Regions from separate parts of the Homo sapiens genome. Here all the other regions are linked to region 1. Evidence: fine-mapped QTL for protein levels in blood plasma. Region 1 holds a variant in brackets. A gene starts in each other region. All regions are shown on their reverse strands.

Region 1 (10,788 bases):
CTTGCCCAAAATGTTTAATCTGTATATTATCAAGCTGTCATACACAATTCCAGTTTTTAGGAAATACAGAAGAAAGAAGAACAAGTCAAATAGCGCCAAAGGAAAATTATCAGACAAATCCAGAAGGTAGGACTTCCTATGGGACAACTGAACTGGTTTCATCAACAAGTAAATGGGAATAAAAAACAAATGGCTTCGCAGATATAATAATATGTAATACGTACACCTTGTCTGAATCTTGGTTTGATTCACCTTGGGGACAAATGGGGATATTGGAACATAGATTGGTTATTATATGGTATTAAGAAATTATTGTTAATTTTGTTAGGTGTATAAAAGTATTGTGGTTATATAAAGAAAAAGTCCTATGCATGTGAAGTAGTAAGAGATGAAATCTACTTTAAAAATCTACTTTAAAATACTCCAGCCAAAAAATAGATTCAGCAAATATGAAAATAATGCAATGTCATTTTTTGGATGTATTCAAATTAAGCTATGTAACAAGACTGATTTTCAAACTCCTTTCTTCTTAGACAGTGATATAGTTTGGGAGTGGGGAGAGTTTTAAAGAGCTTGAAGAAAAAAGTCACGATAGACAATTGTTTCTGTTTTACTCAAGGAATTAACTAAAAGATATATGACTTTAGAGAAGTCATATATTGAGCCACTTATTGCATGAGTTCTAAATAAACTCCACTTCCCTGCCCTGACCCTAAACCTCTTGACCTCATTTCTCTTCTTTAAAATGCCTTATTTCTCTTTCCTTTACAGTAAAACTCCTTGAAAGACAGTCCATAGTCTTGTTTGCAATAGCTATCTTCCCACTCTCACTTGAACCCACTCCAACCAGGCCTCCCCATCTCCATGAACCTGATCTTGTCAGAGTCACAAGGACCTCCACGATCTCCACATTGCTAACCAAATGGTCAATGTTCAGTCTTCATCTTATTCAGCTCATCAGCAGTCCATAACTTCCTCTTCCTTGATGCATATTCTTCACCTAGCTTCCAAAACCTATACTTCTCCTGGCTTTTCTCTGCCTTACCGGTAATGCCTTACTGGTCTCGTTGCTGGCTCCTTCTCTTCTGCCCCACTTTATGCACAGAAATGCCCTAGACCTGCCCTTTCTCTACCTATACTCACCCTCTACTGCTTGTGAGCATCTTGCGGTCAGCTCTCCACCTACCCAGCCCCCTGCAGTTTGAGCTCAATACCTGTTTGTTGAAGTGCACTGAGTCCGGAAAGTCGGTTCTGTCAGTGAGCTTCTACAGAAAGGAAGCCTTTGAAAATTTTTTTTGAGAAAAGAAGACGGGGCAAGAAGGGGGGCCGGAATAAAACACTGCACTCACTTCACTATTTACCCTCTTATCTGTTATCTGTAGAGAGGAGGCAACACTGAGGAGCACAGTGATTCTCAGACTTAGAGCACACCCAAATTATTAAAATCACTTGTTAAAATGCGGGTTCCTGAATTCTGTCTCAATCATTCTGATTCAAGTAGTCTGGGAGGTTGGGAGAATATTGGGGGGAAGTTGGAAATCTGCATTTAATAAGCACCCCAGGTAATTAATTCTCAGGCAAGTGGTGAGAAACAGGTCGCTGAGAACAGTGCTACTGAAAGTGAGATCTGCAGAGAAGTGCTAGGCTGAGAAAGCTTTTCAAGATGCAAGATGAGAAAAGTACAGAAATGGAGTGTAAGTGACTTTTACAGTAATTTTAAAGAGTAATTTTATGCCTGTTAGATCAATACTTTTTAAAATGGGGCTTGTATTTCAAATGTCCTTTTTCTCATTTCATGATTCTGGAATCCATGCTTTTTTATTTATTTGTTTATTTTATTTTTTATTTTTTATTTATTTATTTATTTTTTTGGAGACAGAGTCTCCCTCTGTCGCCCAGGCTGGAGTGCAGTGGTGAGATCTCGGCTCACTGCAAGCTCTGCCTCCAGGGTTCACTCCATTCTCCCGCCTCAGCCTCCCCAGTAGCTGGGACTACAGGTGCCCGCCACCATGCCTGGCTAATTTTGTTTTTGTGTTTTTAGTAGAGATGGGGTTTCACCGTGTTAGCCAGGATGGTCTCGATCTCCTGACCTCATGATCCACCCGCCTCGGCCTCCCAAAGTGCTGGGATTACAGGCGTGAGCCACCGCACCTGGCCCCATTTTTATTGTATTTTACGTAACTACTGATGTGAGAGGAATTGGGAAAAAAAATTTGGTTCTTCACCACCAATAGTTTGAGAAGCCTTGGCTTTGGAGAAACAGTTCACTCAGGCTCTAGTCTCAAAAAGCTAGATTGAAATCCTGGCTTTTGTACTGTAAGTTATCTTAGGCCAATTAGTCAGTTTCTGTGAACCTTGTGTCTTCATCTGCGAAGGATAACAATACTTAAAAGGTTGCCTCTGCAGGGCTGTGCTGACAATTTAATGATAGATTTTTATCACTTTATTTTAGCTAATAATTAATGAGCTTTTACTATGTGCTAAGTAATTTACAGGCAGTAAAGGTCCTGTAATTTGGTGAAGCTCATTTAATTCCTGCAGCAACAACAGTGCCCAAGGCGAGCACTGTTATCACCATGTGCTTCACAGAGTCCCCAGAGGAGCCTGCCCAGGCTGTCTGGCTCTACCACCCCAGCTCCTACCCACCGAGCTCTATCAAGCGGGAACCAACATGGGTCAAAACATTAATCATTTGTCAAAACATTTCTGACAAGTCACCGTTTTGCTCAAAAGCGCAGCAAAGGTCAGAAGCATGATATGCAACAAGAAACCGACTTGTAGCTGGTGAATCTGAGAAGACAGTGAAAGAAAGGAAGCCATGAGGGGCGCGCAGTGCCTGAGAGGCTGTGACTGTTGGCAAGTGTTTACCTGAGGACAGGCCCACCTGCATGGCTCATGGTGGGGAGGGGGAGATCCTGCCCAGAGCAAAGCCCTGAAGATAAAGGGCTTTCACTCCTGCCAAGGGTCTCTTACCAGAGATTACATCTTTTCCCAGCCAGGCAGCACTGATAATGAAGTCCTCAGAACATTTCCCTGAGTACATTTCCCCAGAGGTTTTCTAAGAGTCTGGAGAACAGAACTTTGTTGGGGGGTGTTGTGTCCCCACCATGAGGTCAGGCTGCGGTCCCTGACCAGAGCCAACCACTCGGAACTGATTAGGAGAGCTCTGAACTCCAGATTGACACAGCCATGGCAAAGGGAAATCATGAGCCATTTGCTACTGTCTTCACCCTTGCACCCCATGCACAGACAGACAGACTTGTATTCATAGAAATATCTGCCTTCCTATTTGACAGGTGCCTGGCAAAAAGTAGGCCTTTCGTGCCCCATGAATTCCCTTTCTGTATAATGCCCACTCCCCACTACACACCCCAGCCCCAGGAGGCATCTCCCACATGCTCACCACACAATTTGCACTCCGCTTGGTAAATCAGCATTAAGCAGAGGAGAGCGCAGGAAGGGCCTATATAGAGAGTGGAAAAAACACTTCACCCCTCCCCAGCAACACAGCTACCCACTCTTTCCTCCACATCCCTACACTACACCACACCCCTATGCTACAGAGAGCCAGACAAAGAAGAAAACGGGCCCGCCATCTCCTCAGAAAGAGGAACTGTCTCACCTCCTAATCTTTACTACACTGCTTCGATTTTTCTTGGAGTAATTTAAAGCAAACGCCAGACTTTGTATCAGTTTCCTGCTACCAGCTCTTCCCAACTGCGGATCCAACAAAAAATTAAGCCTTAATGTCCTAAGACCTCCATTGTATGCAACGCATCAACTAACTCCCATGGCATCGAGAATTACCTACGTACCACCCCTGGCAGAATCGTACCACCCCTGGGAGAATTGAGAACGTAGACCCTCAGATTCTCTACACTGTGAGACACACACACACAGACACACACACACACACACACACACACACACACGCACCAGGTTCTGCCAGAGAATATATGAATATAAATAATAATTCAATATGATCACAATGCCAATATCACCCAATATCCAACCCACCTTTAAATGTTTACCAATTCTCTCAATAATGTCTTTTACACTAACCTGCTCAAAAGGGGATCCAAACAAGGACAGGACATTTTGTTTGGATGACTGGATGATGTGCCATTTTCAATTCTCTCTTATCTAGAAGAGTTCCTCGCTCCCTTACTTCTTCTTTTCCACGGCATATATTTGTTGAAAAAATGAAGTCATTTCTCCTGTGGAGTGGCTTATGTTCTGAGCCTGGCTCACGGCTTCCTCAGGGTGTTGTTTAATGTTCTCCTCTCTGCTCTGTGTTTCCTTAAACTGAGTGTTAGATTTCAAGGCTTGTTGAGATTTGGTGGTTTCAAATTCAATGGTTCTCCCAGGCTTTTTTTGTTAAAATATATACACATATACTCTCTCTCTCTCTCTCTCTCTCTCTCTCTATATATATATATATATATACACATATATATGTGTATATATGTGTGTGTGTATATATATATAGAGTATATGTGTGTGTGTATATATATATATAAAACATTTAGGCTGGGCGCGGTGGCTCATGCCTGTAATCCCAGCACTTTGGGAGGCCGAGGCGGGCAGATCACGAGGTCAGGAGATCAAGACCATCTGGCTAACATGGTGAAACCCCCGTCTCTACTAAAAATACAAAAAATTAGCCAGGCGTGGAGGCATGCACCTGTAGTCCCAGCTACTCAGGAGGCTGAGGCAGGAGAATCACTTGAACCTGGAGGCGGAGATTGCAGTGAGCAGAGATCATGCCACTGTACTCCATCCTGGGTGACACAGCGAGACTTTGTCTCAAAAAACAAACAAACAAGCAAAACATGTATATATGTATATATATAAAACATATATATGTATATATATACCCAAAAGGATCTAAGTCCTGGTAGTCTAAGGGAGTTGGAGGTGAGGAAATGAATAGGGAAGGTTGAGTTCTTCTACTTTGTGGTGGCCCCGGGGCCTGTAAGAAAACTTACACCAATACTCATGCGATAGGTTCATTCTTTTTTTTTTTTTTAATTATTATTATACTTTAAGTTTTAGGGTACATGTGCACAACGTGCAGGTTTGTTACATATGTATACATGTGCCATGTTGGTGTGCTGCACCCATTAACTCATCATTTAGCATTAGGTATATCTCCTAATGCTATCCCTCCCCGTTCCCCCCACCCCACAACAGTCCCGGTGTGTGATGTTCCCCTTCCTGTGTCCATGTGTTCTCACTGTTCAATTCCCACCTATGAGTGAGAACATGTGGTGTTTGGCTTTTTGTCCTTGCCATAGTTTGCTGAGAATGATAGTTTCCAGCTTCATCCATGTCCCTACAAAGGACGTGAACTCATCATTTTTCATGGCTGCATAGTATTCCATGGTGTATATGTGCACATTTTCCTAATCCAGTCTATCATTGTTGGACATTTGGGTTGGTTCCAAGCTATAGGTTCATTCTTTCAGCAAATGCTGATTGCCTACTGTGAACCAGACTGCAGACACAGCAGTAGAGAAGCCAGCCAGAAATCCCTAACCCCTCCAGCACTCACCTTATAGTGAGGATAAATAAAGAGTCAAACAACATAAATCCGTGGTGCTTTGCAAGGAGATAACTGATATGCAGACAATTAGAGTAGGGAAGAGAAATAGGGACAGCTTGGAGTGGGTGAGGTGGAGATTTAAATCAGATGATCAGAGAAAGCCTCACTGAGAAGAAGACATTTGAGCAAGGGTTGGAAGGAGGTGTAAACCAAAAATAAAATCCTAAGCCCCCCACTAACCAACTGAATGGACTCCTTTTTGGCCATGGGCACCCCAGAGAAACCTGAAAAACTGAATTCCCAGCCATGACAGAAAGGAGGTTACACCCTCATCATACCCCTCCCTTTTGGGGTTTAGGTACAAGTGACCAGCATTAAGGTAAAATAGAGATTATAAGACTGACCAAACAGACCCTTTATGACAATAAGATACCAAACTATACACAATACCTAAGGCCATAAAAGGCAAAGATTAAGTCATACCCTAGAAACAATACAGTCTCATTAAATGGGTTTTTTAATTAACCCAGTAAAATGTGGCTTACTCTCCAACCTGACTCTGGTATAGTATCACATGACAGACAGCAGACTCTGAAGGAAATTAAAATATTTTGCCCCAAAATACATTTCTTTGACATATTTGGAAAAGGCTGCCAGACAGCCTTTGGACTGCAAAGCCATCTTTGGTGGGGGAAACGTGCATCTCCAGAGAATCGATATTAATGTCTCTTCCCTTGCTAGGCCTTTCCCAGATCTAGGAGAGATTCTAACTGAGAGTCAGACACCCAAAGGTCTGAGAAGAGACAATCACTATCTATTCACCCAGAGGGCTGCTATCTATGAGGCTCCAAGGACCTAGGCCCCCACAACCTCCTTATCTTACTCAGGCATTCCTTCCTACTGACTTCAAGTCACTAGACAATAACTTGACTCTCTCAGCTACTGTTAGCTAAAGAATCCCTAAAACGCACTTAAGACTTGTAAGGCCCCTCAGCCCTCCCCTAACCCTCTACCCCCCAAGTCCCTGTGTAGGGAAAACTCTCTGTAGCCATCTTTCCTCTGCTCTCACACCACAACAATCAACACAGAAGATGACTTATGTGACCATATGTGTGGGGGTCCCACCCCAACACCAAGCAGCGACACCAGCTTGGTGTCCTCTAATTCAGTTCCAACACTATCTACCTGGAAATAGTGTCAGATCCTACAGATTGAGGGCTTAGTGTCCAAGACATCCCCCCTCCACCAGTCACAAGTCCAGGCCTCCAGAACTTCTTTCTGACCAACCAGCTTCCATTGGGGTTCCCCTCTCCGTGGGTTCAATTAATTTGCTGGAGCGGCTCACAGAACTCAGGGAAACACCCTACTTACATTTACTGGTTTATCATCAAGGATGCTGCAGAGGATACAGATGAAGAGATGTGTAGAGCAAGGTATGGGAGAAGGGATGCAGAGCTTCCACGCCCTCCCTGGTTGTGCCGCCCTA[C/T]AGGAACCTCCTCCTATTAAGCTATCAGAAAGTTCACCCAACCCTGTCCTCTTGGGTTTTTATAGAAGCTTCCTTGACGTCAGCATTTCTTCCCCCAGGGCATAGGGTAGGAACCTCTCATGGGAAGGTTTTTTTTTTTTTTTTTTTTTGAGACAGAGTCTCGCTCTGTCGCCCAGGTTGGAGTGCAGTAGCATGATCTTGATTCACTGCAACCTCTGCCTCCCGGGTTCAAGCAATTCTTCCTGCCTCAGCCTCCCGAGTAGCTGGGATTACAGGCGCCCACCATCACACCCGGCTAATTTTTCTATTTTTAGTAGAGACGGGGTTTCACCATGTTGGTCAGGCTGGTCTCGAACTCCTGACTTCAGGTGATCCACCCACCTCGGCCTCCCAAAGTGCTGGGATTACAGGCATGAACCACTATGCCTGGCCTCATGGGAGGGTTGTAAGGCCCACAGTCAGGCCAGAAAACATAAAAACCTTGCCTTGGGGCAGGTGAAAGGACGGCAGGAGAGAGACTGTTTCTTAGGGCCTGTCCCTGAAGTCTAAAAAGCCCAGCATTCTAGCAAGACTGTAGCAAGGGCTATGGGGCTATGCGCCAGGAAACATGCATGGAAACCAACACATAGTCCAGGCATGATGGCTCACGCCTGTATTCCCAGCACTTTGGGAGGCCAAGGCAGGTGGATCACGAGGTCAGGAGATCGAGACCATCCTGGCCAACATGGTGAAATCCCATCTCTACTAAAAATACAAAAATTAGCCGGGCGTGGTGGCATGCTCCTGTAATCCCAGCTACTCAGGAGGCTGAGGCAGGAGAATCACTTGAACCCAGGAGGCAGAGGCTCAGTGGGCAGAGATCACGCCATTGCACTCCAGCCTGGGTGACAGAGCGAGACTCCATCTCAAAAAAAAACAAAAAAAAAAACCACCAATACATATATCCTAACACCGCACCCTCCCCCACTTTGAGATGTCTCACATTTTTTGGACAGAACTACCAGTTACCTTCCATGTACTGATTTCCAGATATCCTTGCCTGTAATGCCTGTCTCCCTAAAATGTATAAAACCAGACTATGGCCCAACTGCCTCAGGGCCACTCACTCAAGGCTTCTTGGGTTTGTGTTTTCTCTAAGCTACAGTAACTCATATTGCCTCAGGATAAACTTCTTGAAAATATTTTACAGAATTTGGTTTTTCTGTTAACAGAGATGAAGGAGGCTACCATGCAGATTTCTGAGAAAAGAGGGTTGCAAGTAGAGGGAACAGCAAAATACCTACACAGGGGCAGCCAGATAATGTGGCGCCTTACACAGGTGTAGGGGTTTTGGCTTTCATCTGATTAAGACTTTGCCGATGTATGTTTCAAAGGCATCACCGGATGCTGCCTTAAGAATCAACTGTAATGAACAGCAGGTCTTATAGATGTTACCAAATTTAATTCTTACCACCACCCTGTGGGGTGGGGTATTAACAATCCTCTTTTTTAAATAAAGAAATTGAAACTCAGAGAGTTTAAGTCATTTGCTCAAGATGTCACTGTAAATGGTGAAACCACGGTGTGTTTTGTTTTTTGTTTGTTTGTTTGTTTTTGAGACAGAGTCTCGCTCTGTTACCAGGCTGGAGTGAAGCAGTGCAATCTCGGCTCACTGCAACCTCCACCTCCCAGGTTCAAGCAATTCTCTGCCTCAGCCTCCCGAGTAGCTGGGATTACAGGCACCCGCCACCACGCCCGGCTAATTTTTGTATTTTTAGTAGAGACGTGGTTTCACCATCTTGGCCAGGCTGGTCTTGAATTCCTGACCTCGTGATCCACCCGCCTCAGCCTGTCAAAGTGCTGGGATTACAGGCATAAGCCACCATGCCCGGCTGACCAGATTATTCTAACCAACAAACTGGTAGTGCTCTTCATCCTATGTCCCTCTACTCAGGCCCTTCCAAGGGCTACTGCGAGCCTCTCTGCTTTATCACACCAACTACAGTTGCTAATCACTGTATTGACCTTCTGGTGACACCTATTTACTCTGCCCTGATCTTCATCTCCTTAATCTTTAGTGCACAAACCTCACCCTCATCTGGACCTTAGAACCCAAACTTTCTGTTCTTAGACTTAGAGTGCTTGACACCCTGTTGCCCCCAGAGGGTGGCATAGTGCCTCCGAGAGGGGCTCCATGTGTCCTGGCTGCCAGAAACCCTCTCCCATGAAGGACTCCCATTTCTCTAAGAGCTTGGATTCTTAATGTGTGCCACCTGAGCTGCCACTTAATGCTGACCCTTCTTTCTCTTTCCTCATATCAGGGATAGCTGGCTGCCCCACAAGAAGTTTGCTCCTTCTGCCATATAGTTATTGCTGTAAATTACTGTCCAGAGAGGGATTGCATTTTACACACACACAAACACACACAGCATATAGATGGGATCATTTTACTAGTTATTGGCAAAGAAATGTGAGCAAAAATAACATACATCACTTCTGGGCCAAGATGGTTAAGACGTGAGTTTATTTGCTCTAGCAGCTAGCATTACCCTATAGAGCTACTCAATAGAGACTTCCTGAATATTTATTTCTATGGTTTAAAACCATCAACAGAATATTCAGCTATAGATTTTTCATATCTCCTCATCCCAACATTTCACAATCCCAGTGAAACAACAGAAGCACACCCTAATTTAATCAAAGCCAAGAGGTCCTAAATTCTTTCACATCAAATCATATCTCTTGTATTTTGTTTCCCCCGACACGATTCCAAGATTTTGAAAGATGTTGTCGACTAACTTTAATTTAAAATTTGAGTTATTTGTTATCAAATGAACAAAGATACTGTTGCCAATCAGAGGTTCTGAATGGCATGAGATTGCCACGACTACCACAGTCAGTTGATAAAAGTTTAGCATAAAACAAAGAAACTTGATTTTCTTGGCTGCGCAGGTTTGCCGTGGTGAACGTGCTTCTCCCATCTGGCTTTTCGAGATACTCAAGTGTCTGGTGGATCTCTGGAGGCCCTGGACAAGGGACTCTGGTTTGTGGAGCTTACTCCAATAATCGTAACTTTGTGATTACAGCCATAGACACAATTCTTGCTTAGCATGCCCCTGTGATGGCTAATACGGAGTGTCAACTTGATTGGATTGAAGGATGCAAAGTATTGATCCTGGGCGTGTCTGTGAGGGTGTTGCCAAAGGAGATTAACATTTGAGTCAGTGGGCTGGGGAAGGCAGACCCACCCTTAATCTGGGTGGGCACCATCTAATCTGCTGCCATTGTAGCCAGAATAAAAAGCAGGCAGAAGAATGTGAATAGACTAGACTTCCTTAGCCTTCCAGCCTACATCTTTCTCCTGTGCTGGATGCTTCCTGCCCTCGAACATCAGACTCCAAGTTCTTCAGCTGTGGGACTCGGACTGGCTTTCCTGCTCCTCAACCTGCAGATGGACTATGTGGGACCTCACATAGTTCCATGACCGTGTGAGTCAATACTCCTTAATAAACTCCCCTTTATAAATACATCTATCCTATTAGTTTTGTCCCTCTAGAGAACCCTGGCTAATTCACCTCCCAAAAATCAGGTTCTACTGGTTGGCTAGACACAGAAGGGTGCTTAGAAAAACCACCCCCAACAGCCCCTAACTAGGCAAAATTAAGGCACTCTATGTTTCTCCAGAAGAATCTGGTTTCATGTGTTTAGAAATCAGGAAAAAAACAATGTAAAATTACGATTTTTCTGGAGTATCAGATCAAACAGATACCAGCCTGCC
Region 2 (10,788 bases), not on the chromosome of region 1:
TGACGCGATGTCCCCTAGGAGTGTGAGGGAGGAAACCTCACCTGGTCTAGAGGGGCGGGGTGGGAGAACGAGAGACTGACGCGAAGGAGAAGGAACTCAAGAAAGGGCTGTCACTGAGGGGTAACCTGAGAACTCGAGACTACCCCGGGCGCGCTGGGTTTGGCCTGAGGAAAGGTGTGCTCTAGGTTGCCCAATAGGCGGCCCTCCAGGTTTAGGGCTGTTCTACCTCAGTCTTGGTATCCCCTGCAAAAGCTCTAAAATCGAAGGATTTTGACGCCCGCCTATTATTTTACCTCCGTACTCTAAAGCAGTGATGACGGGAAATACGACAATAACGAGTATACCTGTCACTTTAAAGTCCTCTTTTCAACTTTTGGCAGTTTAGTTAAATTGGGGAAAGGAACAGAAGTGTCTTTGGGGACACAATTTTAAAAGGACTTTACAATTATGAGAATATGAGAAGAAGAAGAAAAAGCAGCCCTAAAGCTAACAATGATAGCTAACACTTATCGAAAGCCGAGTACCTGTCAGGAACTGCTAATAGCTTTAAATATATGATTTCATTTATCCACACAAGAATCCTGTGGGTTCCCATTTTAAAGATGACGAAGCAGGTATGGCGAAATTAAGGAACTTGCCTAAGATTACTGCAGATGTGCAAGTAGAAACTGAAGGATTAATCGGTCATCAGATGTGTTAAGATTTTCATGTATTGTGCTGAAGAAAGTTCTAAAGCATGGCACCAATTTTTTTAAGTTTATTTTATTATAATGTTAACTTCTAAAAGTATGACACAGACCCATAATTTCAAAAATATTTCTTAGAATAAAAAAAGTTCAAGTGTGTCAACGTAATAAAAAATACTAGGTAAACAATAGTATGGGTGGTAGTCAGATATGGCAAAACTAATAAAGGTGATTTGCAAATGACTGAAGTTTGGGGGACACTAACAGAGGTTATTTCTGATTCTGAAATTCTATTTTCTCACCCCTTAGAGCCTCGTTTTATTAATTTTTACAAATGAGGTTGTAATATTTTAATATTTTATATAGGGCTTTGTAAGGATAAGTGAGATGATGTAGGTGAATGAAATGTATAAATTGTAAAGCACTATACAATTATGAGGTATTATTGGTTTTGATTCTGCCCAGTTCTCTACTCCAACAGAACCACCTTGTGCATACTTGTATCATCACTGCGTTCAGCAATTCCTTTGAAATTATATGTTTACCTATATGCTTCTCTGACTCTGTTATTTCTAACCCCTTCAAGAAATTCTGGTCACATTTAGGGCAAGTCTAGTTTAGTTTATTCTTTACCTTCTCTAATCTTAATTGTCAGACTGTTCTTTGTGTGTGAAAATCTGCAATATTTAGAAGTCCCTGAAAGCATCAAAAGAAACAAAAACTGCCAGCCATATTAGCCTATAAAATAAAACCCAAGTCAATAAACATTTCTTGATTGTTGCGCTCAAGGCAACACTAAAATAAGCACTTTGATTAATAATCTATGGTTGTGGTCACAAGGAGTTCACAACTGGGTTTAAAAGCATATCTTAGGGGTGATCTGAGTTCAGTAGATCTCAAACCTGACTGTTCAGATTCACCTGAGGTGTGTGCTGTTATTATTGTTGTTTTCTTTGGGGATGTTTGTTTGTTTAAAATCTTCAGTGATTCTTAAAGGCAGTCCAGCTCTAGCATGTCAAATCCATGCTGTAAAGATGAGAAAACGTATCTGTATAAGGGTTCGAGACCACATATTTCATGAGAGCTTGATCTAGGACTAGAACCCAGATTCAACCCCGGAATTTTCTCCCTCACATACTCAAATACACAAAGTTAAAGATGATCCCCCCAAAAAGTTTTTTTTATCTAATATGTGTATTTCTATTGGCCAAATTCAGAAAAATGAGTGTTATCCCTATCTATTCGACACTGAAAACGCAAGAAAGTATTGAAACTTTGTTTTACTCCAAAACTCTACATTTTAGTTTATTTCCTACAAACTGGAGAAATGGATAAAAATGGATACAGTCTTCTAAATGTTTTAAGGCTATAACTATAATATTGAAAGCTTGTAAAGTAAATCAGCGCTGGTGTCTAAATAAACTATATTTTCTAATTCAGCATACCTTAACACTATATGAAATAATTGAACCTTACGTTATTCATTTCTATCTGTCTACGCTCAAAAAAACAAAAAACTTGGCATCCTAACAAACACTTTTTAAAAGGTTGGACATGCTGCTATTTCCTTTCCAATTTTCAAAAAGGTATTTATTTTTAAGATTTATTCAGGACTTTCACATTTACCTGAGAGCTGTTGTTAGTGATAGTCCAGTGCAAAATAATGGAAAGTTTAGATGGTCTGCCACCAAATCCTGGGGAAGGTTGGCTGGATACCAATTCCTTGGTAAAGGAGTGCAGAGCCAAGAGTTAAGTAAATTGATCTGATTCAGAACAATAGGATTAGTAGTAAAGTAGGATAAGGGCATATTACTAATGGCCCAAAACAGGAGGAATGTCTGGAAGCTTAAATAAAAGCTGAGATCCTGGTTTGATTAGAAAGATAAAATTTCTTACCACTCCACAAATACCAAAGCAGTGGAGAGATGCAGCCCCTCCAAGATGATATGACTACACTTCTTGAGCAGGCCATAACAGAAAACAGAACACTTGCCAAAGGTAAAGTAGTGACCTAAAGAGGTGCCCAGGAAGAAGACATTACTGCTTAGTATTTAGCAGCCATATAAGATAGATCAAGGCTTCCACGAGGCAGCTTTGTAGACTTTACAGAAGTGAACACTAGCACAGGCATAGGCATATGTGATAGCCTCCTCTGGCAGCTAACTCTCCCTGTAAACTGGAGAGAATCCACTAATTACAACAATAAGAAACATTTCTTTCCCCAGTTCTTATTCCCCACTGTTCTGCATCTACATTGACCTTGGCATTTCACCACCTCTCCTTAATTGTTTCTGCCACTGCAAAACATGCGTGTGCTAGCTACTTGTGATTAAAAATGTGGATGTTTGAAATGCATGCAGCAGACATTTACTGTATGAAGTAATACCAGTCTGCAATTTAAATAAACTAGATTGTAAACTGTGTAGTGTGATTTGAGAGGTAATAAAAATCCCTGCCCCCAACAAACATACACACACATACACACACACACACACACACACACCCTCCTGCACAGGAGTATATGTGTCCATATCCCATTGTAAATGCACGTGGACACACACACGCATACTCTATCCCAGTGGCTCCTTACATTGCTTGCAGTTTAATCACCGTGGATATAGATTGTTTTAGGTTAATCAGCCTTCTCATTTTAAATGCAAATATAACTAAGATTGGTAAACAGTAACACTACAGGCCCTTTTTTCCTGACTGGAATGATAACAGCAGAACTTCCCAGTGGGTTACAGGTGTGATGTGAGATATGGATGGTAGGAAAATTCTTATAATTATAAAACCTTCAAACTATTTTTAAGAATCATGTAAAAATTAACAATTGTTGAAGTTAAGCTTGAGCACTCTTTTTCTCACTTCCTGTGTAAACATGTTGAAATCAGAAGTTACTCCAGCAGGTAAGAGTTTATATCTACAGTTTACCACTAGAGGGCGCTTTGTCATGATTATCCCAGTAGCCCTTTCCCTAGATGTGCCGTATTATATTTCAATATGTGCCATGAAATAAAAAGATTACAAGTAAGATTCATATGGCATTTATTTTTTAATGTAGCATCTACTATCACCTTATGTCATGAAACAGGGAATATTTTCAAATACAACAAAGAAAATCTCAGAATAAAAAACTCCTTTATATTGAGTATATTTAACACTAGGGAAAAACACAGTACATTGTCTTTATTTCTCTTTTTGCCAGGGACCCAACAAACTTCATTATAATCCAGCACTAGATTGAAAAACACTGAAAACAGCTAATTTGATAACGGCAATTGGAGATTAATATCAATCTAAAAGATGTTGGGGGAACCTATGTGATATCTGTAGAACTTCCATATTACTTTCCAAATTGTATTTTGTGCAATCCAATATTAAAATTTATTTGTATTTCTTACGCATCAACTGAGAATCGTAAGACGGGCCAAGGAGCACTTAGAGTTTTGTTTTCTGGAGAAACAACTTAACAAAAATACCAGTTAAGCATTATGCTACGTGCCCAACATCCATGAATGAATAAGATTATTCTCTGTATTCGAGAGCTCAGAGGGAAAATAAACATCCAATAAAATAAAGATTAAGGAGATAAGTGCTGCAATAGATGTGTGTACCAGATTTAGAGACAGTGCAGAGAAAGTTGTGGCATTGTTATTATTTTGCAGGGAGGTGGGGGAAGCATGAGGAGCTCTTGCCATTTTTCTGAAGCATGGAGGGATCTGAAAGTGACTGATCTCTGAAGAGGACTTCGTTTTCCCAATAGTCACTTACTTTCTTTGCTTATAGAAGTCCTTCTAGAAGAGTTCAGAGCCCTAATGCAAAGAGTGTTTCCAAACTTGGATTCCAAAGTTACTATCATTCCTTTTTTACTTTAATTATGCTTGAGGTATAGTCTTCCTTCCCCTCTTATCATTGAACTTCTTCAGTGGGCCTTTACTGTTAAAACTGATGCATGCAAGGAATTTTCCTTGATTTGATGATTTGATGCAGATTTGGATATATCCTTAACATTTTATATAACAAGGCTAGAACCAGAGCCTTCTTGCAAATAGGGGTTAACTAATAACTTAGTAAATTAAGCGGACATGCTTAGACTATCTGCTGCCATGACAATGGAGAGACCAGGTTGAAAACCTGTAACCTGGACACTGCAGTAGAGGTAAGATCTTTTCTAGATCATTGGTTCACTTCCTCTATGCATCAGCTGTGAAAATGTGGCCTCAGATACTATCTCCTGGCATGCACTTTTCATTATAATTATGCATGGTCCATGCCTCAGTCCCAGTTGGAAACACACCTGTGATTTGCTTTTAAAAATAAGATGAATTCAAAGATTAAATGAAATCAGTCATTGTAATAGGAAACACTGCATAGAAAAAATACGTTTTAAATATATTCTGGATCTCTCTTTTGATTCATTGGTAGAATTTTTACATGTTAGTGACTTCATGAAGATTTATAACTGTTTAGCAGATACATGAGCTACTTCAATTTTCATATAATTTTTTTTAATTTTAAAATAATAATGGCATAGTTCTGCATGATAGAAAACCAGCTTTTGTTTTTAAGGAAATCTCACAATATTCTTTCATTATGAAAACATGCCATTTTTCAGTAAAGTCACGCAAAAGGATGTTTTCCTTCATGTGATTTTTTAATAACTAAGTATAATTTATGAAATATATAGACAATTACTGGTAGTTGCTAAGAAACTCTTCTGAAAGCCATAAGCCTGTATTCTTGCTAAGCACATAACAGGTGTTCCCACTCCCTGTGTCCTTTGTATACACATTCATTCTGTATTCAAATCACAGAAGCAAGAGGCAAGATAGGGTCTGTTACCTCACTGCTAATTTCCCTAGCAAATAAACCAGCAGCTGCTGGTCCAAGTTACCACTGAGAACAGGGCACTGCATGCATGGGACAGGATGCTTTCATGGAGCCCTTCGGTGACACACTTGGGGTCTTTCAGTGCAAAATATACCTCCTTCTCTTCGGTAAGGCCCTGTGTGAATTGTGTTTTAGCTGTTTGTTAGGTTTTTTTTTTTTAATTGTGGACATAAGGTAAATATTTGCTTTAGGCTGTAGATGCATTCAGATAATTGAAGAGCAGGTCAGAACCTTTTAACAATAACACACTGTTACAGCAAAGAAGCAGGAACATTTAAGAGAAATGAGTTTCAATAAATAGATTGTTATTGTTTTCTTGGAACAACAATTATTGTCATAGCACTCATTAAGATAATTCAGATATTTTTAAAAGATAATGAATTTCTTCTTTTAGAGTTTACATATAGGTTCAATAGTCTTTAATGCATTTATTTCAGCAAATATTCTAATAGGCCATGAAATTGTGACCACTTAGAGTGAAACTACAAATAATTTACGAAAATTGTTTTCTTTTTAATTAAAGATATTGTTGCAAACTGTTTACTGCTTCGTTTTAAGTTATCTGTCTCATCTTATGAAATATGGAAGAAAGGTAAGATTCCAAACTAACAAAAAAATTTCCTACACAAAAGGGAGAACGTATTTGAAAAGATTGTTACTCCAAAATGCCTTTAGCTTTTCTCTTTGCCCAATGGCTAGTCCTATTAAGAATTTTTTTCTACCTTAATATTTTCCCTCATTCTCCTCTTTATCTTTTGAGTTTAAAGGAGTCTCTTTCCAGCATTCCAACTGCTGTCTGTCAACATTATTTTCACCAGATGTTCTCATTTCCATTCTTCCTATTTATCAGTTTTAAAAGTCAAATCAATTTCTTGTTTTGTTTATATTCAACAGATAGGAGTTCAATTAAGGCTACATTTTTTAAAAATTAAGAACAGCTTAGCAAAATAAGCAATTTAACTTTTAGGCTTCTTCAGCTATTTAGAGCTTTACTTTCACTCCTATATTTTGTTAAAGTTTGCATTGTAAATGTTATTATTCAAATTCATACCTACTGTTGTACCTATCTCACACATTTGAAATGTACAGTTTGTAAATTTTTTTAAGTCTTTGAGTTTCCCAGAGTTGTGATTGTTCCAGTTATCACAGTATTTATGTTATCAAATTTAAGCCTATAATAGATTTTTGTTTTCTAAAATTTTTTGAAAAAGTAAATAATTATTATAACTGTCACTACCTTTGTGCATTTGTCTTCCTTTTGAAAGTATCCTGGGTCATCATCCCACTTATTTTTATATTTAAAACAGTAGGACTACTATCATTTTATAAGTGTTGTTTTTGAAACTGGCGTTAAGAAGAACTTAGAGACAATTTAGTTAAGGAATTCAACTAAAATAAAACAAATGTACATTAGGAAAATAGCATGTTCATAAATAGCTAAAGCAGTTTTTATACCTTAAGACCTTCTCTCTTCTGCAAATTTGCTTTTCTCCATAGGCAGTGTGTTGTAAAGACCACAGATGACTTGGCAATCTTTGCTTTTAGGAATATTGAAGTTTTGTTTGCTTCTTCTTTTTAAAAAATTTTTAAAAATTTGAAGCCTAAAATGTACAGTTTGTACAGTTTATTCAAAACACATCATAATTTCTATTTTCTCTAAAGATGCAAGATTTTATTTTCAGTCAACAATACTTGTGTTATGCTTGTTAATACCACACATGATAACAGGGAAGTAAATGCCAGCTATTTTGAGCTACAGCAGAGGTCACTTTGTGAAATCTGATGTTTATATTCAATACAATGAAACCGGTCTAGGGAGTCCTTTGTTGCTGGAATATAGATAAATTCTACAGTAGGACTTCAAGTGTACCTTAACACTGGATACTTTTTTATAGTGCTATTGTCATACAATGTAAGAGGGTCTGTAAAGGAGGGATCATTGCTGCAATTTTGTATGTCAGATTATGATTAGTATTATAAATGTTTCTCCAGATTTGTGTAATGCCTTATATGCAAAAAGTCAAGATTTTTTTAACAGAACTATAATTTATAAGAGTTTTTGTTTGTTATACTCAGAAAGTAATAGTGAATATAATAATAAAATCGAATTTAAATTTCCGTTTAAGTCCAAATATTTGGACTACTAAAAATAAATTTAAATTTCATCAATTTTTATATTATTTATTATTTTTGTTTTTGTATTTTTTCAAATAGAGACAGAGGTCTCGCTGTGTTGCCCAAGCTGGTCTTAAACTCCTGGGCTCAAGCAATCTGCCACCTCAGTCCCCTAAAGTGCCTGGGATTACAGGCATTAGCCACCACAACCAACCTTTTTATATTATTTATTTTCTTGAAGTTTATCTGTTCATGCAGAGGATGATTTTCTAAAATCAATAGGTTTAGTCCTTTGGGTTTTCTCATACAACTAGAAAAGAGCACTTGAAAATTTCTCAAAATGAAGCTAAGTTTTCTCACATTAGTAAACTACTGTGTTTGACAGCATGAATTCATCACATCTGTAGTGGGTGACACATCAATGATAAGAGAGTATGTGTTCCTAGAATGTGGAGGAAGCATTCAATTATCTGTTTATTCCCAAATTTCACTACAAGCAAAGATTGTATCATATTGATAGGTTCATGTCCAATGAAGAGATTTTACGTGGCTGAGATAAGATACTGTATAAAGAAAATTTCATTCCCTGCTGACATTCTTATAACTTGCTACCTATAATTTATCTGATAAAAAATTGTATAGGCAATCTCTAAGCAAATAGTTACTGTAACAGCTGTGCTATTTCTCACTGTCACACAAACATTTGAAAAAGCATACATATTTGAAAAAAACTTTTCATTTAATAAGAAAGCACTGAACCTATTCAGAGATATTGATGGCAATATATTATTTAAGGTATTATTACATGATGCAGTCTAAAATAGACCCCAAAACTAATTTTCCCCTAAATAATGATCACAAACGCTATATTAAATATCTTTTTCTACTAATGTAGTGTTATTTTTTCTCAGAGCTTCAATATTTGTATTGTATTTAATATTTCATTAAATAAAATTTTCCTCCTATAATTTTAGTCATGGACTCTCTAACCAGTCTTTTCATATTTAAGATTCAACATTCTGGGTCAAGATCCAAAAGTCATCAACATTTCTATTCCAGCAATATTGTCACCCCATAGTAATATAGTGCCTCCCAACCATTTCCAGAATATTAAATAAATCTCAATCTTTTCAAATATAACTACAAAGGAAGTCAATTACAAAAAAAGCAGAGAAGGACTTTTGCAATGGCTTTCCCAAATGACAAGCACAAAATGGGTCAGAATCCATTCAGACCTTCTCAGCCTAATGGTGGTTTCTAGGCTGAGTTGTGAAATGTCCTAAGTGAACCAACACATCCATGACAAAGCTGCTCCCTATTAGCAGCCATGCAGCTTTTTCCAGTGCATTCCCAAGGCAATTATACAGACTTCCATCATTCCCCTTGATTTCTTTGTAAAAAACACAGAATTGCTGTTTTATTAAAGGATATCCAAGGATTGACAACTTAATATATGAACCAAAAACTGGGACTCAATTCTTCAAAATTATTTAGGCCCTCTCTCAATTTGGGTCCTCTCAAAACTCTCTGGGCCCTTCACCTTCAAATATAGGTAGCTGCTACCCTTAGAAAAGCACCTCAGGTTGTCAATAACATAAAATTAAGAGAGTCGAGAAAGGCCTTACACCTTATCTGATATTACCTCCTATTCACACATGAGAAAACTGAGTCTGAAAATTAAAATGACTTATTTAAGGTCACATAACTGACCAATCACCATTTTACCCCAAGTATGTGTCCTTTACTAGGACTTCATATTTCAGTAGATCTTTAACTTTATTAAAGTAACAAGCACAGTAATCTTCAAGTTAAGAGAATAGGTGCTTGAAAATCATTATTTTAGAGCTATTTGCAAGTGATAAATTTAAGACTCAATGGCGGACATAGAACATGGGAGTCCAAGATCAGGAGTGAGCCATGAAACACTTGTAAATATTTTCATATTTACACAAGTAAAAAAAAAGGAGGGAGCAATACACTTAATACAGTGAAAGGTCCAATTTACATATCTTAAGTTAGTAATAACAGGTACTAAGCCTATTTTTTTTTGTTGTCGCTTACCAGGAACTTGTCAGGAACTGCCTATCTTCAACTTCAATGAAAGACATATAAATGCATTTTGTTTTGTACAGAAAACAGATAGACAAAGAGGAATCTTTTCCTGTGCTGATCTCCCATCCAAAGGCCCAATGTCTTACTAAACCTATGACTTTAAGAGTTTCACCCCGACTGTCAGCCTCTGCTTCACATATCTTAGACATCACTAATTTTGAGACATAGATTTCTCTCTCCCATCTTTCTTTCTCTCTCCTACTATTTCCTTGCGAAAACCACTACTTCTTTTCTGCAGTCCACTTTATCTCCTCTTTAGAATTCCCAGCACCCAGTTTTCTCTTTTTCTAATCACTCAAATTAGGAAAAATTCCAGATTTAATAGTCTTACACTTGGCAGAAAAGAATACAGAAGGGAATTCTCATCTTTGTAACTGCTTTGTTATGGACCAATCACCAAAGTGTGCAAGTAGGTCCATTATCAGAAGAAAAAAAAATTCTTAGAAGTTAATCACAAAAACACACAGAGGCCAATGAGACAATAAGACATGTCTTTATGTTTCTTTTACAGTCATCTGCTTTTCAGTCCATATGGTAAGTTTCAGTTGCAAGTCTAGGAGTCTCTTCTCCCTCTAACTAACTATCTTCCTCTTTGGTGTTTTCTCCTCTTGGATTCTTTCCTCTAACTTCTCTGCCAACCCCAGAGTCTCACTCTCTACTAATAGCTAGCCAAAGGCCCAAACTGTGGGAATCTTTGCTTCTACCTCCACTCTGGGAAGGAAGGAGATAAATTTACTGTTGGTAGAACTGGATTCCTCATAGGAACAGGCCTACATCTTTGAGTTTTTCCAAGGAAATAATCACAAAAGGCAAACAGATCTTTCTACCTTTCCCTTTTTAAAATTGATGGCCTTTCATGACATGACTTGGATGAAGCTTGAGGACTCCCTTTCTAGTAGAATGAAATCAAAAAAATGTAGAAAAAAATGAAAAAGTGGAAGCGATCAAAGAGGATGAACATTTTGTACTTGAGAAATTTAAA
Region 3 (10,788 bases), not on the chromosome of region 1:
AGCAGGCTTTCCTTGGGGCTCTTATTGTCTGCATCCATTTCATTTCTGGGTTTCTGAATTATTCACCTCCATGACTGGGATATATGAGGCTAAATGAAAACCCAGGGGAAGTCATCTCACTCTGCAAGTCACAAAGTCACTGCCTTCATAGCTCACTGCAGCCTTGAACTCTTGTGCTCAAGTTATCCTCCCACCTCAGCCTCAGCCTTTTGAGTAGCTAGGACTAATTTTTAAAATTTTTCATAGAGATGAGATCTCGTTATGTTGCCCAGGCTATAAAAATGACATTTTAAAAAGAAAAACCATAGACCAAGCTTGCTTATTAATAAAGACTACACTCTTGAAGTAAATATTCATAGAATTCAAATGATGCCTGATCCATTCATCTGGGGATACACATGATGTCATATGAACATCAGCACCTCAAATATCCTGTTCTTGCCTCTCCCAAAAAGTTCACTTCAAGTGTTTTTGGAATTCCCTGAGGGGTAGGTTTTCACAGGAAATAAATCATCCAGTCAGCTGTGGTTACTATGCAGCATCCACTGTGTTATTTTTCTTTTGCTCTTATTTCTCTGAGTTAATGTCTGTTATCTACAGAGGTATTTGAAGGAGGCTTACCTTTATTACTGCTGTTGCAGACTATCATAAGAATAGCAATGTCTATTTCAAGGATGCTGTTTCCAGATAATAAAAACATCTAATTTTCAAGATACTGAGGAGTTCTGCATAAAAGAGCATTTTCTGCTCAGCTTTGAGCCACCCGTGGTAACTTGGGCTATGAAGCAGTACTGCGTGTTCCCAGTGCCTTTACGCACAAATCAAATACTCCTACAAATACTCTGTGCCAGTCATTTGCCTGTTTGCAGGTCAGTTTCCTGGCTTCCTCTGTTCTGCTCTGTATCACGAGGAACTGTTTCCCCAGGCTCTTTTCTTTCTGACTTCTGCAAAGATTCAGCCAAGGGGAAGAGGGTGGAAGCAGAGATGAAACCAGGATGTTTCTTGTTTTCTCTCTCTGCCTCAGGGGGCACCTCCAAGGGCAGGCATATGTCCACAGTGGCTCCATCTCCCACCAAATAGTTCTTTCTTCTAAGATCCCAGCTTGCTGAGAAGGTCCAGAATGGTCCATCTTCTGCACGTGCTACAACTCCCAGACTCTGGTAACACCCCTTCTCCTCTTTGTTCCTCTAAACTAAAGATTTGTGGTAGTTTTCTTCTGTTGATAATTTTAGGACTGCCTCATTTTCTCTCCCCCACCCATTTAACTTCTCAATTCTTCTATTACCTATGTATCTAGTTAGATGTATTAAGTTTTCTCTGAAATACCTAGAGCTGTTTCTATTTTCTTGGGAGGATTCCAACAGTTATAGACTTATAAAAGTGGCCAGGTGCAGGGGCTCATACCTGTAATCTCAGCACTTTGTGAAGCTGAGGTAGGTGGATCACTTGAGCCAAGGAGTTCAAGATCAGCCTGGGCAACATAGTGAGACCTTATCTCTACAAAGTAAACAAAAATTTAGCCGGGTGTGGTGGTGTGTACCTGTAGTCTCAGTTGCTTGGTGGGGCTGAGGTGAAGGATTGCTTGAGCCCGGGAGAGGATGCAGTGAGCTGTGATCATGCCACTGCACTGCAGCCTGAGTCACAGGGTGAGACCCCATCTCAAAAAGAGGTGTTCAATTCAAGGTCATACAGCTGGGAGGTTGAGGCTGCAGTGAGTCAAGATTGCACCACTGCACTCCACCCTGGGTGACAGAGCGAGACCCTGTGTATAAAAGAAAGAAAAGAGAAAAAACACAAGTTGAACAACTTGAGCAAGAATATTGAGGTCTCTGAGTGAACCAACAAGAAGTATAGGAACAACACGTTAGTATGAGATCAACTTCCTCTTTCCACATCATACTAGTTGTTAGGTACAAGGTTGTTGTGTGGCTCAACCCTATAGAAAACCATGCACGTTTTAGTTCATGTAATTGTCAATCCTTAAAATTGTGCAGTTCGCAACATGGTCATCTGTATCTAACAACACTGAATAGGTAGACATGGTCAAACCTCATTTATCTTAGGTATTAATATTTATCTATTAGTAGGATTAAAGTTAGTCTTAAGTAATAGAAAGAAACTACAGTAGCCTAAAGAAAATAGTAATTTTCTCACATGTAAAAGTTTGTAGAGATGCAGTCTAGAGCCGACATGGCCACTTTTCTCCACAACGTCCACAGCACCCAGATGCTGGGTTCCTTCTAGCTCAAGAGGTTAACAGTTCCCCCAAGTGTGAACCTCATTCCTGTCATCCTTATCTTCCTAGAAGGAAACATCTTCCTTCTAGGCAGCAGAATAGAAGAAGGGACAAACAAAACAAAACAACAACAACAACAAATCATGCCAAGGCAATGGAAAAATACCAAGTATCTCCTAAGGAAGAGTCCCAATAGCTGCTATATGACCCTCTACTTAATCTCCTTGGCCAGCACTTTCAGGACTGGCTTAGTGGGTTTAGATAGTTCCTTCTTTCATCTATGGTCATCTTTAAGGGGGAGAGAATCAGTTGCCATACATTGATCTAATGCTTTGACCTTAAACCTAAGAGACTTTAGAAGACTTGGGACCTTAAAGTCCCCCTTAAAAGAAACAGAGACCAGACTAGAAACCTAGAAACATAGGTTTTCAGTGCTAGATTTTATTGAGGTGAAAAAAAGTAGGTAAAAATTACCCAGCTACTTTAAAACTGATGTAGGACTGAAAACCAAGTTTTCCAACTCCCGGGTTCAGTGATCTGTTCATGATAGGTTGCTTCAAAGGAAAACTGTCTTTCTCCTGTGGCATATTAAACATGACTGCAAATTATTTGCAAATCCTCCCCTCAAGTGGTGGAGTTTATTTTAATCTCAGCTGGCCTTGGGACTTGAATTGACAAATAGAATATGGCAGAAGTGATATTGTATAACTCCAAGCCTAGGTCTCCAGATCCTTGCAGCATTTACTCTTGCTCTCTTAGAATCTAGTTGCCATGGGAACTAGCCCAAGCTAGCCTGCTAGAGGGGCCTCATGGAGGAGATCTGAGGCACCTTGGCCAACAGCCCCAGCCAACCAAGAACCATGTGTGTGAGACCATCCTGGACTAGGTAGCCCTGAAATGGCCTGCTATGTGAAACCAAAGATGCAAATGAGCACAGAGGATACTTCAGCTCTTCCTAATTTGCCAATCCATAGAATGGAGAGCCAATTTTTTTTAAGCCACCAAATAAGGGGTTGTTTATTATGGAGTAATAAGTAACTGGTACATTTGCTAAGAGGGAGACCACACAGCTTGTCCCATTCTTTTGTTTCTCATTGTTCCAAGTGAGACATTTAAACATAAGAATAAATGCTTGCTGGGCACGGTGGCTCATGCCTGTAATCCCAACACTTTGGGAGGCCGAGGCGGGCGGATCACCTGAGGTCAGCAGTTCGAGACCAGCCTGACCAACATGGAGAAACCCCGTCTCTACTAAAAATACAAAATTAGCCAGGTGTGATGACACATGCCTGTAATCCCAGCTACTCGGGAGGCTGAGGCAGGAGAATCGCTTGAACCTGGGAGGCGGAGGTTGTGGTAAGCCGAGATTGCACCATTGCACTCCAGCCTGGGCAACAACAGCAAAACTCTGTCTCAAAAAAAAAAAAAAAAAAAAAAAAAGAATAAATGCTTGTTCCTCTAACCATTGAGTTTTGGGTGGTTTGTAACAAAGCATTATTATGGTAGTAGTTGACTAAGACCTTGGTTTTAGCAAGAACTTATGTAAATTTTCTTGAGGAAACATATGTTGAATTGACACAACTTATTAGAGTCTCTGTATTCAGAGTACTATCTTCAAAACCTGTTGGATTAGGAAGAAAAATGTGGTGGCATGTAGAAAATACCAAAAAGAAAATAAAAAAGGACAAAGATCCTCCTTTTGAGCTGTTTCTACCCATACATAATTAAAACTCCAGACTTCTGAGCATTTTCTTCAAGTTTTTGACATATTCAAGTACCAATACAGCTATTATTTGTTTAGTATATTTTAGTTGATTTAATAAAAATACAGAGGCTATGTATTTTAGTCTTCTTAGAGTCATATATCTATAAAAGAAAAATGTATATAAAAATGAAAATATTGGACCAGGTGCAGTGGCTCATGCCTGTAATCCCAACACTTTGGGAGGCCAAGGCCAAGAGATCGAGACCATCCTAGCAAACATGGTGAAACCCCGTCTCTACTAAAAATACAAAAATTAGCTGGACATGGTGGCGTGCACCTGCAGTCCCAGCTACTCGGGAGGCTGAGGCAGGAGAACCGCTTGAACCCAGGAGGCGGAGGTTGCAGTGAGCCAAGATCACGCCACTGCACTCCAGCCTGCTGACAGGGCGAGACTCAGTCTCAAAAAAATATATATATATATTATATATATTATATGTATAATATGTATTACATATATAATATATATAATATATATATAATATAAATATATATATAATATATATAATATAAATATAAATATATATATAATATATATAATATAAATATATATTTATATATATACACACACACACACACACACACACACACACACATATTGAAAGAGGTCCATCTACTTATCACTTAAATTATTTCAAAAGCCACTTTGTGGTATACTGAACTTACAAGCTACTCTTTCCCAAAGGAGCTCCCCAATTCTCAAGTATTGCTTCCTTTGAAAGAGCAATCAGTGCACCCCAAAACCTGCCCCCCATGATCTGTTTCTCCATCATCTTCTGGGCAAAGTCCTCAACATTGCTTGTGATGTCAAGGCTTACTTCGGTTCACTCAGAACTGGGTTTATTGTTCTTTAGGGGGTAGCTTCTTAGTGGCTATCACTGCAATCGAGTGATCTTAGAAGCAAATTGCCAGTCATGTGCACACTTGAGAGTGTCACAATAGACAGATTAATGTCCTGTCCTTGATTTTGATACCACATCCACTGTAGATGGCAGCTGATTATGGATAGAACATTGTGGCAAAGGCCATGATCTTCAGATGATGAAACTGGATGTTAGAGAGTTTGAGAATACTAGTCCCCAAAACTGTCACCTCACAAGGCCAAGCAGTGAAACATAGTTTAAAAAGAAGAGTTTAGATGAAGGAAGATGTTTACTATGAAGAAACTTCCAAAAAACAGATACTTAGTGACTGAGAGGCTCAATGGTTAAGGCTTTGGTTCAATTCTCGGTTCTGCTAATTATTAATTTTGTAACTTTGAGTAAGTTCACTGTACTTTCATATCTCTCTGACCGCTCATCTATAAAATGGGGAAAATAAAAGCTGTTATTTCCCTCAGAAAGTTGCTGTGAAGACTGAAGGAAAATGTACAAGCAAAACATTTAGCACATTCCTAGCACAAAGAAGGTGCTCCGTAAAAAGTGGTTATTTTTATTATTACCAATATTTTATTTTGATACTATTATGGCATGAAACAAAACCTCCTGGAATTAAAATAAACAGACAGGACAATTGAGGGCAAGAAGGAGGCAGCATCCGAAAAGATAAATGTGGTCCATGTGCCACAGCTGTTAACACACCTCTTCTCGGGGCTTAGATCTGAGTGAAGGCTGCTGCACTCCCGTGACTGGGTATGGCTGTGCTGGTGATGACTCACCATGGAGTAGGATATGGGTGATAAGAAGAAGTCCTGCTCCTGAGACAGCTCCCAGGATGGAGGTTGCTTGGCCTTCAGGAGGAGGCTGAGTAGGAATGGTGGACCTGGCAGCTGTGCTGCCCTATCCCTGTGGCTGGCTCAGCTTCTCTGACAGGGAGAGAACCTAAGTCCAGGCTGTGGTGGCTGTCCATAGGCAAATGTCACAGAGCACACTCCATCTTCAACTTTCTCTTATCAAATCTAAGTGGTCTCCATTATCATCTTCCTAGGGAAACATCAGCTCAGGGGCTTTGATTGATAGAAAAGGAGTGAGGAAGGGAATATGTGTGAAGGAAGCTAAAAGCCCATGGGGAGAGTATTGGACTTTCTGTGGAAGGGAAGTTTGAAGAGGAGGCACCATCAGGGTGTACCCACACAGACCAAACACCTCTAGAATCCTGAGTCAGCTTTTTCCCCTCACTCTGATTCCTACTCCCCCCTTAATCAAAATTCCATTGTTCGCTGGCATCACTATTCCCCTAGTCATGCAGAAATGCAACTTGGAGCTCCTCTGTGGCTCTATCATAAACCCCTCCTCCATTCAATCCATTGCCATGACTTTATTCCATACAATTTTTCTTTCTACGCACTTCCCTCCCCTCTGCCATCCCCTTGGGCCGGGCCCTCCCTTCATCACTCCTGCAACACCAAACTAACCACTCTGTTTCTTGTCTTTTATCCAATCAGTCCAGATCCCCAATACCACACCGGCGTTTCTTAGATATTATTGTATCTTGCCACACCTTTCCTCAAAAGCCTTATTTTTCCCAATGCTTTCTTTTCTAATGTATGAAGTTCTGACTTTTCTTTATGACTTTCATGATACCCGACCAGCTGGCCCCAGGGGGCACAATGGCTTTACTCCACTTCTCCACACCCACCCTCATCCTGGCAAGTGCACCATGGCCCTAGCACAGTGCTGATGGAATCTGGAAATATCGCCAGGGGATCATTTGCAAGACTAACCTAATAAATTACATTATTTTTTTCCTGGGATGAGGAAACAAGGACAGAGTTGAAACACCTTCCCCCAGAAATGTGCTTGCCTCTCTCAGACCACAGGTAAGGGCTTAATATGATGTGAGAAAGAGGATTTCTGGCTTGGAATGCAATTCATTTCTATTAACATTTAGAAAGCATCTTGGGTGGGCAGGAATGAAAACCAGACACTGTACATGCTATGACATAGTTTTCAATCACTAAGGAGATGAAGAGGCAAGCTATCAGTGTAACAGAAAGCAGAATGAAAGAAAGAGGGGCTCAGTAAAGCCTTATTCTTTTGTAGAAGGCATGAGATCCTATGAGGTAGGCATAGGCAAGTATTACCCTCATTTTCCAGATGACAAAACTTGCTTACCTGCCTCAGAGTTTAAGTGGCTTGTTTATTGTCACAGAGCTAATAATTAGCAGATTAGGGTCTCCTAGCTGGGTGATCTTTTGAATGCATGACTTTGCCAGCAGCCAGCAGAGCTATGAAACACCGAGAGAAACAATTAAGCATGCTTGGGAACAGTGTGAATGGGCATGGAGCTGGGAGGCCTCCTGGGAAAGGTGGCATTTGACCTGGGAATTGATGAATCCCAGAAAAGCCAATCAGAGAGGTGTGAAAACAAAATTAAAATGGAGACTGGGCCTGAAAAATTCCCAGGCAAACAAAGCCAAAGACCTTAAAAATAGCCATATTCTTGCTAAAACTACAAACATAAATTAAACTTAACTTGGGTCAATTTCTGATAAATGCTTACAACAAATAAAACTTAACCCCAGCCAATGATAAGCAGCCAACTAACATATGATTATGTGACTAGGGACTTTCCAAAAAGTTACCTAAAAAATGCAATTATGTAACTGCAAACTAAGCAAATAATGTTTCATTTTGCTTCTATAACTTCCCAATAAATGCTTGCCTCTGACATTTTGTCATCGCAACACTAAACCTTTGTCGGTCTGGTGCTCCCCAATTCATGAATTGCTTCTTACTTAAATAAACTCTTTAAAATTTTACTGTGCCTCATATTTTTTTTAATACAGAAGAAATGAGAGAAGGAAGAATATTTTAGAAATAAAGGAACTTCATGGGCAGAGTCACAGTGCAAGACAAAAGGAGCAGACCAAGGGCAAGATTGCTTGGGGAGTGAAGACTCCCTCCCTCTTCTCCCCTGAGAAGCTGAGATAAAGGGGGAGGAGAAGCCTGGGTGCCCCCCACTGATAAGCAGGCTCCACCCAGAGGCCAGTCCTGTGTGTCTGGGGACAAGGCGAAAGAGCAGCAGAAGTGCCCCTTCTCCAGGATCAAGGAACTGGGGCGGGGGGTGTTTCCTGGACCCCAGTCCTCCGAATCAGCTCCTAGAGTGGAACCAGGAAGGATTCTGGAGCCACAGAAGATAGACAGATGGTAAGTCCCCTTTTGGAGTCAGAGGCTTAGCGGGGAGGGGTGAGGGTGGCTGTGTGCAAAAGTCCTGCCCCCACTGGAGGGGAGGGAATGTAAGGCTTACAGAGTAGAAAGGTGGGGAGAGAGGGAGGTAATGGGAGAGGGATCGAGAAATGGCACATTCAGGGGACAGGTTCGTTCTGAAGCCCATCTGGGAACACTGCTCCGAGATAAAAATATGTGTGTGGGGGCAGGGCAGGCAGCGAGGGTATCAAAATGGCCTGATAAAACTCTCTTCAATGCACCATTTCCTGAACCAGCTTCTCTCTCCTCCTTCTCCCTCCACTCACTTCAGGAAGGTGGGGACCAAAGTGAGGAAGAGCCGAGGGAACGCAGCCAGGCAGGTGGAATGGGAACTCTCTGGAGCCAAGAGGTAAGTGGCCTCCTCTCCTGGGTCTGGAATACACTGATGTTGTCACTCTCGGCTCTAAAATCCCACAAACACTCATCTACTAACTGTCTGCTTCATCCTCACCCAAAACAGTTGACATTCCTTGTTTTCTCATCTCCCAGGAGTTAAAGTAGGGCTGGGTTTAGGAAGAATTGGGATAATTATTTCTGTATAAAGGGACTGTAGCACCAACAGATTCATTCTCTCTCCTCTTCTTCCCATCCCTGTCTCTCAACCCCCATCTTGTATCTTTCACCTCTTGGTTCCTCCCACAGAGCACTCCAGAAGAGAGGCTGCCCGTGGAAGGGAGCAGGCCATGGGCAGTGGCCAGGCGGGTGCTGACAGCTATCCTGATTTTGGGCCTGCTCCTTTGTTTTTCTGTGCTTTTGTTCTACAACTTCCAGAACTGTGGCCCTCGTAAGCAAGATCCCAGACCCCCTAACCTAGTCAGCCCTCCCCCAGCCCTGGGGCCCAGGCCCAGTCCCTGCTCCTGGGGCTTCTGCCCACCCTGACCCTTGGGGTCCCCATGGTTCTTCTTCCTCCCTGCATCCTAACCATTTCTTTTTCATCAGCTCCCCACTTAGTTACTCACCTGATGTTCTTTGCCTAGCCCCTTGGGGGAGCCCTTGTCTTTTTGCCTCTTCTTTCCCAGCTCTGAGCTTTTCCCCACAGGCCCCTGTGAGACATCTGTGTGTTTGGATCTCCGGGATCATTACCTGGCCTCTGGGAACACAAGTGTGGCCCCCTGCACCGACTTCTTCAGCTTTGCCTGTGGAAGGGCCAAAGAGACCAATAATTCTTTTCAGGAGCTTGCCACAAAGAACAAAAACCGACTTCGGAGAATACTGGGTGAGGAAAGCAGGGTGGAAGATGCTCTGTGCAAGTGGGTGACTCTGTGCCTAAAATGACCATGACTGCTCCAAACCCTGTGTAGTTGTGGAACAACTGATTTGCACCATCCCAGGTGGGATTATACGGGTGGATGATTGGAGATGATGGGGGAGTAAAAGAGGCAGGATGGCGGGAGCTGCCTGGGTTTGCTCATCTCTCACTGTTTCCTGTTGCCTTGCCTTGGGTACCCTTCTTCCGTTTCTCTTGGTCCCTTTCTGCATTTTTTTCTTTATCTAATTTCCATCTTCTTTGCTTCTCCATGTATCCATAATTACTCCATTCTCTCCAACTTGTCCCTTTTAGCAAGCTCCATCTTTGTTGCTTCCTCCAAATGTTCAGTTTCTATCCTATGCATGGTGTTTTCCTCCACAAGCATCTCTTCAGCATCTCCTGCATTTCAATTCTTTTGTCCATCACTCTCATTCTCTAACCTCCAAAACCTCAGTCTCCCAATGACTCCTTGTCAACATTACCCTCTCCCTCTCACCATGCCGGAGCTCCCCTCTCTCACAATGATCTCTTGCTTCTTGCTTCTCCATTGAAACCTTGAACCATGGCAAGCAAGTTGACCTGGAACAAGTGGGATGTTAGAGATGGATGATTGGAGATGATGGATGATGGTGGAATGAAAGGGGTAGGATGGTGGGGTGAGAAGTGAGAGAGGGCTTCATCACTGTGCATAAGAGAAAAAGTGGGTAAGTACAAAGGATATGCTGGAAGAAGAGGAGAGCTGAGTTAATTGGCAGTGGAAGTAAAGTTCCTGCAGATGGAGGCTGGAGAGGAAAACTGCCAGGACTGAGAGGAAAACCAGAAGGATGAGCTGAAACTGAGTAGGAGGTTGGAAGTGCGTCCCAGGAAGTTGGTGGATGGTGGTGAGGATTTGGGAATAAGAACATATAAGATAGACATGCATTTCCAGTGCAAGGGAACCTAAAGAATGTGTTGACACTATCAATTAGAATCTGGGAAAAGTAAATGCACCCCTCTGCCCTCTTTTTTTGATGGGGAAAGAGTGGGAGGGGGCCTCTCTTTGGGTAAATGGATACTTTCAGGGAAGGCACAGAGATAAAAAGAAAAAATATGCTCAGGATAAATTATATTGCCTACAATGGGATGAATAGATATCAGGGGGACTGAGGGTGAAAAGAGTGTTAGATATTAGAGGGTGGATGATTCAGAGAGACTTGCATTTGATTATTGTAGTGTGTTTGTTTCCTGGGATCAATGGATGAGGAGTCTGGACTAGAAGAGTCTTCCCCTGTTTCTTCTCTTTGCTAAACCTTTCCTTATGAGTTTTCTTCTCTCCAAATCCTTAAAGTTCTCTAGTTCCCTGAATTTGTCTAATTTCTTCAATCATTTCTTTTGTCTTTCATTTCTCTCTTTT

Which allele goes with the higher level. Positions count from the first base shown, and alleles are read on the strand shown. Strength reflects both the effect of a copy and how common the allele is.
As copies of C replace T in region 1, the plasma level of the protein whose gene starts at base 5,585 in region 2 goes up (moderate association).
With allele T in place of C in region 1, the plasma level of the protein whose gene starts at base 7,927 in region 3 is lower (moderate association).

What was found. PIP is the chance, under the fine-mapping model, that this variant and not a neighbour inherited with it causes the effect. Protein levels are from antibody-based Olink assays in UK Biobank. Linkage for the fine-mapping came from a reference panel and not from the study's own genotypes, which makes the PIPs less certain.
Region 2: HEPACAM2 starts here. The variant in region 1 is fine-mapped to the plasma level of the HEPACAM2 protein (UK Biobank, PIP above 0.99).
Region 3: KEL starts here. The variant in region 1 is fine-mapped to the plasma level of the KEL protein (UK Biobank, PIP above 0.99).

What each region holds. Positions count from the first base shown.
Region 1 is chr3:187,018,133-187,028,920 of GRCh38, reverse strand. All of the region lies in intron 2 of ST6GAL1 (ST6 beta-galactoside alpha-2,6-sialyltransferase 1), which reads right to left. Among named protein-coding and RNA genes, the nearest start is that of ST6GAL1, 93 kb to the right of the region's middle. RefSeq lists enhancers at 2,731-3,060, 6,670-6,939, a silencer at 4,614-4,703, a cis regulatory region at 6,942-7,035 and a promoter at 6,942-7,519. The variant C/T (reference allele first, on the strand shown) is at 7,032.
Region 2 is chr7:93,221,266-93,232,053 of GRCh38, reverse strand. HEPACAM2 (HEPACAM family member 2) reads left to right here and starts at 5,585. Exons shown (of 10, transcript NM_001039372.4): 1 at 5,585-5,686. The coding sequence starts at 5,608.
Region 3 is chr7:142,959,502-142,970,289 of GRCh38, reverse strand. It overlaps KEL (Kell metallo-endopeptidase (Kell blood group)), which reads left to right and starts at 7,927. Exons shown (of 19, transcript NM_000420.3): 1 at 7,927-8,086; 2 at 8,418-8,495; 3 at 8,789-8,930; 4 at 9,186-9,362. The coding sequence starts at 8,084. RefSeq lists a cis regulatory region at 5,444-5,845 and a silencer at 7,968-8,163.